2 linked regions of the Homo sapiens genome follow. The protein of the gene in region 1 interacts with the protein of each later gene in a pairwise test. Each region holds a gene or a part of one and is shown on either strand. Other genes may lie near its edges.

Region 1 (3,500 bases):
CTCCTGAGCTCAAGTGATCCTCCCACCTCAGCCTCCCAAAATACTGGGATTTCAGGTGTGAGCCATTTTACCTGGCCCCATAATGCTAATATTGGTTCATGCTAATATTTCATGAACTGTTTTTTCTTTTTTTTCTTTGAGATGGAGTTTCACTCTTGTTGCCCAGGCTGGAGTGCTGTGGCGCTATCTTGGCTCATTGCAACCTCCGCCTCCCGGGTTCAAGCAATTCTCCTGCCTCAGCCTCCTGAGTAGCTGGGGTTACAGGCATGTGCCACCACGCCCGGCTAATTTTGTATTTTTAGTAGAGGCAGGGTTTCTCCATGTTGGTCAGGCTGGTCTTGAACTCCCGACCTCAGGTGATCCGCCCGCCTCGGCTTCCCAAAGTGCTGGGATTACAGGCGTGAGCCACAGCGCTCGGCCTTTTTTTTTATTTTTGAGATGGAGTTTCGCTCTGTCACCCAGACTGGAGTGCAGTGGTGCAGTCTCAACTTACTGCAACCTCTGCGTCCTAGGTTCAAGCAATTCTCATGCCTCAGCTTCCCAAGTAGATGGGACTACAGGCATGTGCCACCACGCCTGGCTAATTTTTATATTTTTTTAGTAGAGACGTGGTTTCGCTCTGTTGGCTAGGCTGGTCTGGAACGCCTGACCTCAAGTGATCCGCCCACCTCCGCCTCCCAAAGTGTTGGGATTATAGGCGTGAGCCACGGCATCTGAGTGCATGAACTATTTAAAGGGCCAGTCATTGATCTAAATGTCCTGTGGGTTAATTCACTGACCGCCCTTGGGTTTATGCAGCAGGTTCTAGCCATAGCCCATTTTACAGATAGGACCAGTGAGGATCTTAGGGAATTAGAGAATTTAGGGAACTTGCTAACGGTTGCACAGCCAGGAAGTATAGGCAGCTAAGAAAAGTCTTGCAGCTAGGCATGGGAGCTCACACCTGTAATCTCAGTGCTTTGGGAGGCTGAGGCAGGAGGATCGCTTGAGGCCAGGAGTTTGAGACCAGCCTGGGGAACATAGCGAGACCCTATCTCTATGAAAATAAACAAATAAAAATAAGTGTAGAAATATCTTGCTTTTTCTTTTCTTTTTTTTTTTTGAGACAGAATCTCACTCTGTTGCCCAGGCTGGAGTGCAATGGTGTAATCTCAGCTCACCACAACCTCCGCCTCTCAGGTTCAAGTGATTCTCCTCCCTCAGCCTCCTGAGTAGTTGGGACTACAGGCGGGTGCCACCATGTCCGGCTAATTTTTGTATTTTTAGTAGAGACGGGGTTTCACTATGTTGACCAGGCTGGTCTCGAACTCCTGACCTTGTGATCTGCCCGCCTCGGCCTCCCAAAGTGCTGGGATTACAGGTGTGAGCCACCTCGCCTGGCCGTCTTGGTTTTTCTTTACAAACACGTGGCCAGCCAGATATTCTTATTTCCTCTTAAGAAAACCTAAGTGGAGAATAGCAAGACAGTTACTCAAGATCATTCATATAACCGGTTAGTTGTAAATTCCAACATTGGATCTGACCTCCAGGATGCACCTGTTAGAAGAAGTGGCTTGGGCCAGGCGTGCTGTGGCTCACACCTGTAATCCTAGCGCTTTGGGAGGCAGAGGCAGGCTGATTGCTTGAGGTCAGTAGTTAATAAATAGCCTGGTCCACATGTTGAAACCTCATCTCTACTAAAAATACAAAAATTAGCCAGGCGTGGTGGCACCCACCTATAGTCCCAGCTACTTGGGGGGCTGAGGCAGGAGAACTGCTTGAGCCCGGGAGGTGGAGGTTGCAGGGAGCCCAGATCGTGCCACTGCACTCTAGCCTGAGGGACAGAGCAAGACTCCATCTCAAAAAAAAGAAAAAAGAAAAAGTGGCTTGTAGGAGCTGTGTATGTTCCAGAAGGATGACAAGGACCTGCATATCACCTGCCTCCATGAAGTGCCCAGGAGCTGGGGTGTCCCCTTTCTGAGGGGGCAGCTTACCAGGTGCTGCAATCCGGACCCCATTAACATCGGTCAGCTCCTGGCCCGGTCGCTCTTCAATAATGATCTCCTTGCCGGTCTCCAGACGGAGGTCACATGAAGAGCTGGGGGCAGCCACGTAGAAGGGAATGCCATGGTGCTTGGCGACAATGGCCAGCTGGTAGGTGCCCACCTTGTTGGCTGTGTCGCCGTTGGCAACCACGCGGTCAGCTCCCACGACCACAGCTGGGGAGGGGGCGTATGAGAAGTTGGGGGTCATTACCTGGCCCCATGCTCCAGAGCCCCGCCCCCAGGGCTTACCGTCTGCTTACCTGACACGCCCCTATGGGCCATGGCAGCAGCCACCATGCTGTCGGTGATAAGGGTGGCGGGGATCTGCTCATAGACCAGCTCAAAGGCCGTCAGCCGGGCTCCCTGGTTGTAGGGCCGGGTCTCTGTGCAGAAGGCATGCTCCAGGCGGCCCAGGCTGTGCAGTGAGCGAATCACACCTGCGGGGGCCCCACCCACCAGGAGAAGGCCCCGGGGAGGGGCAAACAGACAGGGTGGTCCATTGGTTAGGGGTGCAGGCTCCTAGTCTGGGCGTGGATTGCCAAAGGCTTACCGAGCACAGTCCCGCCCAGGGGCCCTCGCAGTGGCAGTTCCCTCTGCCTGGTATGCTCTTCCCAATGCTCGCATAGCTCCGTTTCACGTCTGTTTAAAGGACACCTTCTCGGTGAAGCCTTCCCTGATATATCAGTTTTGCATAGCAATCCCCACACTTTCAGTTTCCTGCTCTCTGTCCTTAGCATTTATCACCTTCTAACACCTCATGTGTACAGGCAGCCCCCCTTTTCTATGGGTTCTCCATCCATGGACTCAACCATGTGGATTGAAAATATTTGGGCTGGGCGTGGTGGCTCACGCCTGTAATCCCAGCACTTTGGGAGGCCTAGGCAGATGGATCACGAGGTCAGGAGATCGAGACCATCCTGGCTAACACGGTGAAACCCCATCTCTACTAAAAGTTCAAAAAATTAGCCGGGCGTGGTGGCGGGCACCTGTAGTCCCAGCTACTCGAGAGGCGGAGGCAGGAGAATGGCGTGAACCTGGGAGGCGGAGCTTGCAGTGAGCCGAGACTGCGCCACTGCACTCCAGCCTGGGCAACAGTGCAAGACTCTGTCTCAAAAAAAAAAAAAAAAAAAAAAAAAGGAAAGAAAGAAAATACTTGAAAAGAATCGCTGGAACCCAGGAGGCAGAGGTTGCAAGGAGCCAAGGTCGTGCCATGGCACTCCAGCCTGGGTGACAGAGCAAGACTCTGTCTCCAAAATAAATAAATAAATAAAAAGCAATCCTCCCATCTCAGTCCCCTCCCGAATAGGTGGGACCACAGGTGCATACCACTACACCCAGCTAATTTTAGTATTTTTTGTAGAGATGGGGTTTTGCCATGAAGCCCAGGCTGGTTTTGAACCCCTGAGCTCAAGCGATCCGCCCACCTTGGCCTCCCGAAGTGCTGGCATTACAGGCTTAAAAATAGAGACAGGGTCT
Region 2 (3,500 bases), on another chromosome or scaffold:
CAGCTTATGATTTAATGAGTACCTTTATGTCAGAATCTTGATATTGGAGGGCATCCCACACAAGGCAGTTAAGTGCTGAGAGATGAATATTAAGCCATCCATGTTGCATACTTTGAAAATTCAAAGTTGGGAATATTTTTGGTTACTTGCCTTTAATCTGATGGTATGCTATTAGCAGGGTAAATTTAGTGATAGATTTAATTTCTTGGCTCATAACTAAACTTTTATTTTGTATCTTTTCCCCTTCCTCTGAAGGTAATTTTGTGTATTTTGAGTTTAAGAATAGTTTCTTAATTGGTTCTTAAACTGTACTCTGTTCTCTTTATATGGCGACAGAATCTGTTGCATGTCATTTATGTTGCTGTACTCCTGTTGAAATGTTACTTAAATAAATGCCTTTATTCTTGACTAATTTTTAATATACTCAGAACACAGAATTATTAGCTGAAGTACTAAAGTTGGCTTCAGTACTGGCTCTTCCTTCTAGCTACTAACATCTATGAGTGTAGTAAAAGGAAAATAGCATAACCTTCTGTCATTTCAGGCACTTGTTGAGCAAATATGTTTTAAATAAAGCAATTGTGATGTGTATCAGCAGCAACAAGAAATAATGAAAGATAAAGCAAATAGAAAAGCTATTTTAATTTTACAAAAGTAGAAGAAAGAACTAAAAAAGTGTTGCATATATACCTTAATAGGTCTAGAGACATTACTGAATTGTGACATAGTATTATGTTATAACTAATACTCACTAATTATTAAAATGATAATCTGTTTAAAGAGGATAGCAAAATAAAGATTTATCTCTCTGGGAAAGTTCAAACACTAGAGGAGCTTCATCGCCATACCATATACTTTCCTCTAACTACTATTTCATCTCTTTCCTTTCTTTTAGTGCCATTCTTCAAGTTATATTAACAAAGCTAGGACCATTTCTTCTTCTGTTAGGCCTTCCACTTAATTGGATTTTGATTTCTGCCTTGGTAGCTGCCGCCCTCCTAATTTTTCTCAGTGAAATGACATTGATGATCATGTTATTAAATCCGGGGACATCTTTTCTTTGTCTTATCTATTCTTCCATACTTGGATGACCTCTTAATAACAGTTCTTCCCTCTTGAGACTCCCCTTAGCTGTTGGGTTACTGCATTCTCCATCTTCCCTTCTTTTTTGGCCTTTCTCATTCTATTTCTTGTGGAAAAATAGGGATAGGCCTCCTCCACGTGCTTTTTTTTCTTAAACATAAGATTTTTGAAGAGAAAAATCTGTTTTAGAGTGAACTAGATTTTTTTTGCATTAAACACTGACATAGTTTCCTTGCAGATTTTATTTCAGATTAAAATAAAAATCTGTGGTTGATATTTTCCTCCCCTTGTTCATTGGATCTTTAAGGTAAATAAAATAAACATAAACTGATGCTAATGAGGATAATTACATTAGACTAGAATTTGAGACTTCCTTCTATTTTTGCTGTAGGTTAGTATTGATAGAATTGGCATGATTTAGTCAATTTACTGTTAATTTGTTGTCACTGTTTATTGTGTTCAGTTAAAATTCTTTATCATCTCAATCCATTTATATTTAGCTGTTACTTATGTACTTGGCTTCTCTTTGTGGAGCTTCTTAGTTCTATTCACTAGTGTGCAAGTTGCAGATTTTTCTTTTCAGAGTTGAGGAAGACCAAAGATGAAGTAGATTTTGGAAGGAGGTGTATAGGAGGAAGATCATTTTTCAAATGAGTACTGTTGTCCAAGTTAGATGTGTAAGTCTGGATTTCAGATCAGAGACTTGACTTGTATTAGAAAAATATAGTAGGTAGCATGTAGCTATTAGGTGACAAGATGAAATCACCTCAGAGTAAGTATACATGGAGAAAAGATCCAAGAATTGTGCTTTTGGCATTTCAGTGTTTAGGGTTGGGGAGATAAGGAAGAACCAACAAAGGAGCTGAGAAAGAGCAGCCCCTGAGGTAGGAAGAAAATGGAGAGATTTTGGTGTTTCAGAGATTTTGGTGTTTCAGAAGCCAAGTAAAAACACTGTTTTGAGGAGGGAATAAGGTAACCGTTTACTATATCAAATGCTGCTGTGTGTGCTCATAAGATGGAAGAGAAGTATTTAACAATCTGGAGATCATTGGTGACTTTTACCAAGGGGCAGTTTTGGTGAATGGTGGAGTGGAAAACCTGATTTGGGTTTCAGAGAGAATGGGAGGGGAAGAATTGGAGATAATACAATGGGACTTTCCCCGCTAGGTTTTGCTTTTAAAGAGAGCACAAAAATTCACATAGGAGATATTATTTGCCATTCTGTATTGGTTAAATAAAACTAATACAAAATGTCTGGAAAAGTCACATTACCAGTCATGCCTTATTTTTCTGATAGATCTTGTTAGGTTGAGAATCTTTATATGTTTATTGGCCTTTTATAGTTCCTTATCTGTGAATTGCCTGTTCATCTCCTTTGCCCATTTTTCTAATGGATATTGTCTTTAATTTGTCTGTAGGAATTTCTTGTTTTGTTACAAATATTTTCATGGAGCCAGTAATCTAAATCAGTGAATGGGGTAGACTGGCCTGTGAGCCCTGTTTTTGTAAATAAAGTTTTATTTACATAAACATAGCTATGGTAATTTGTTTACATGTCACATAGCACTTATTGCACTTATTTGTTTACATGTCACATAGCACTTATTGCTGATTCCTGCAACAAGGACAGAATTAAGAGGTTGTGTCAGACAGAGGTCATGTGGCCCACAAGATTGAAAATATCTATTTTTTGGCCGCTTACAAAAAAGATTTGCCAATCTCTTATCTAAGGCAATGGTTTTTGTCCTCCATTTTTCCTTAGAATAAAGTTCTATAAAGTATAATTCTGAAATGGGAAACTAAGTCCCCTAATGTAAATTCTATTTTGTAATCCTTTAAAAACACAGTTTTCTACCTTTACTTAATGGAACCTTATTAAAGATAGTAGTCATCTGATAGTATTAAACATGTAATTTGTCTCAGCTATTTCTCAAAGTGTTTGGGATTACCAAAATTATGAGATCTGGTATCTGCCCTTAATGAGCTTACTGTCTAGTCTGCTTGAAAGGAAAGAATATGGAACTATGAAAACTTGCCAAATTGTGATAAGGCTATAGCCTTATCCTCAAGAAAATCAAAGGAATTATAACAGAAACTTATCTGTAAGTAAGGACAGATTCTAAAAAAAACATTCTTTTTTTTTTTTTTGAGATGGCGTCTCGCTCTGTCACCCAGGCTGGAGTGCAGTGGTGCGATATCGGCTCACTGCAAGCTCCGCCTCCCGGGTTCAAGCGACTCTCCTGTCTCAGCCTCCCGAGTAGCTGGGACTACAGGCATGTACCACTACATACAGCTAATTTTTTATATTTTTAGTAGAGACAGGGTTTCACCATGTTAGCCAGGATGGTCTCGATCTCCTGACCTTGTGATCCGCCCGCCTCGGCCTCCCAAAGTGCTGGGATTATAGGTGTGAGCCA

The links.
Region 2: the proteins of MRI1 (region 1) and ATF7IP interact in a two-hybrid assay, tested with the Homo sapiens proteins (one large-scale study listed by IntAct).

What each region holds. Positions count from the first base shown.
Region 1 is NC_000019.10:13,767,522-13,771,021, reverse strand, and holds part of MRI1 (methylthioribose-1-phosphate isomerase), read right to left. Parts: intron 2,664-3,500; coding exon of another isoform or gene 2,575-2,663; exon of another isoform or gene 2,462-2,574; coding exon 2,285-2,461; intron 2,199-2,284; coding exon 1,974-2,198; intron 1,445-1,973; coding exon of another isoform or gene 1,425-1,444; exon of another isoform or gene 1-1,424.
Region 2 is NC_000012.12:14,428,182-14,431,681, forward strand, and holds part of ATF7IP (activating transcription factor 7-interacting protein 1), read left to right. Parts: intron 1-3,500. UniProt on the Homo sapiens protein: Recruiter that couples transcriptional factors to general transcription apparatus and thereby modulates transcription regulation and chromatin formation. Can both act as an activator or a repressor depending on the context.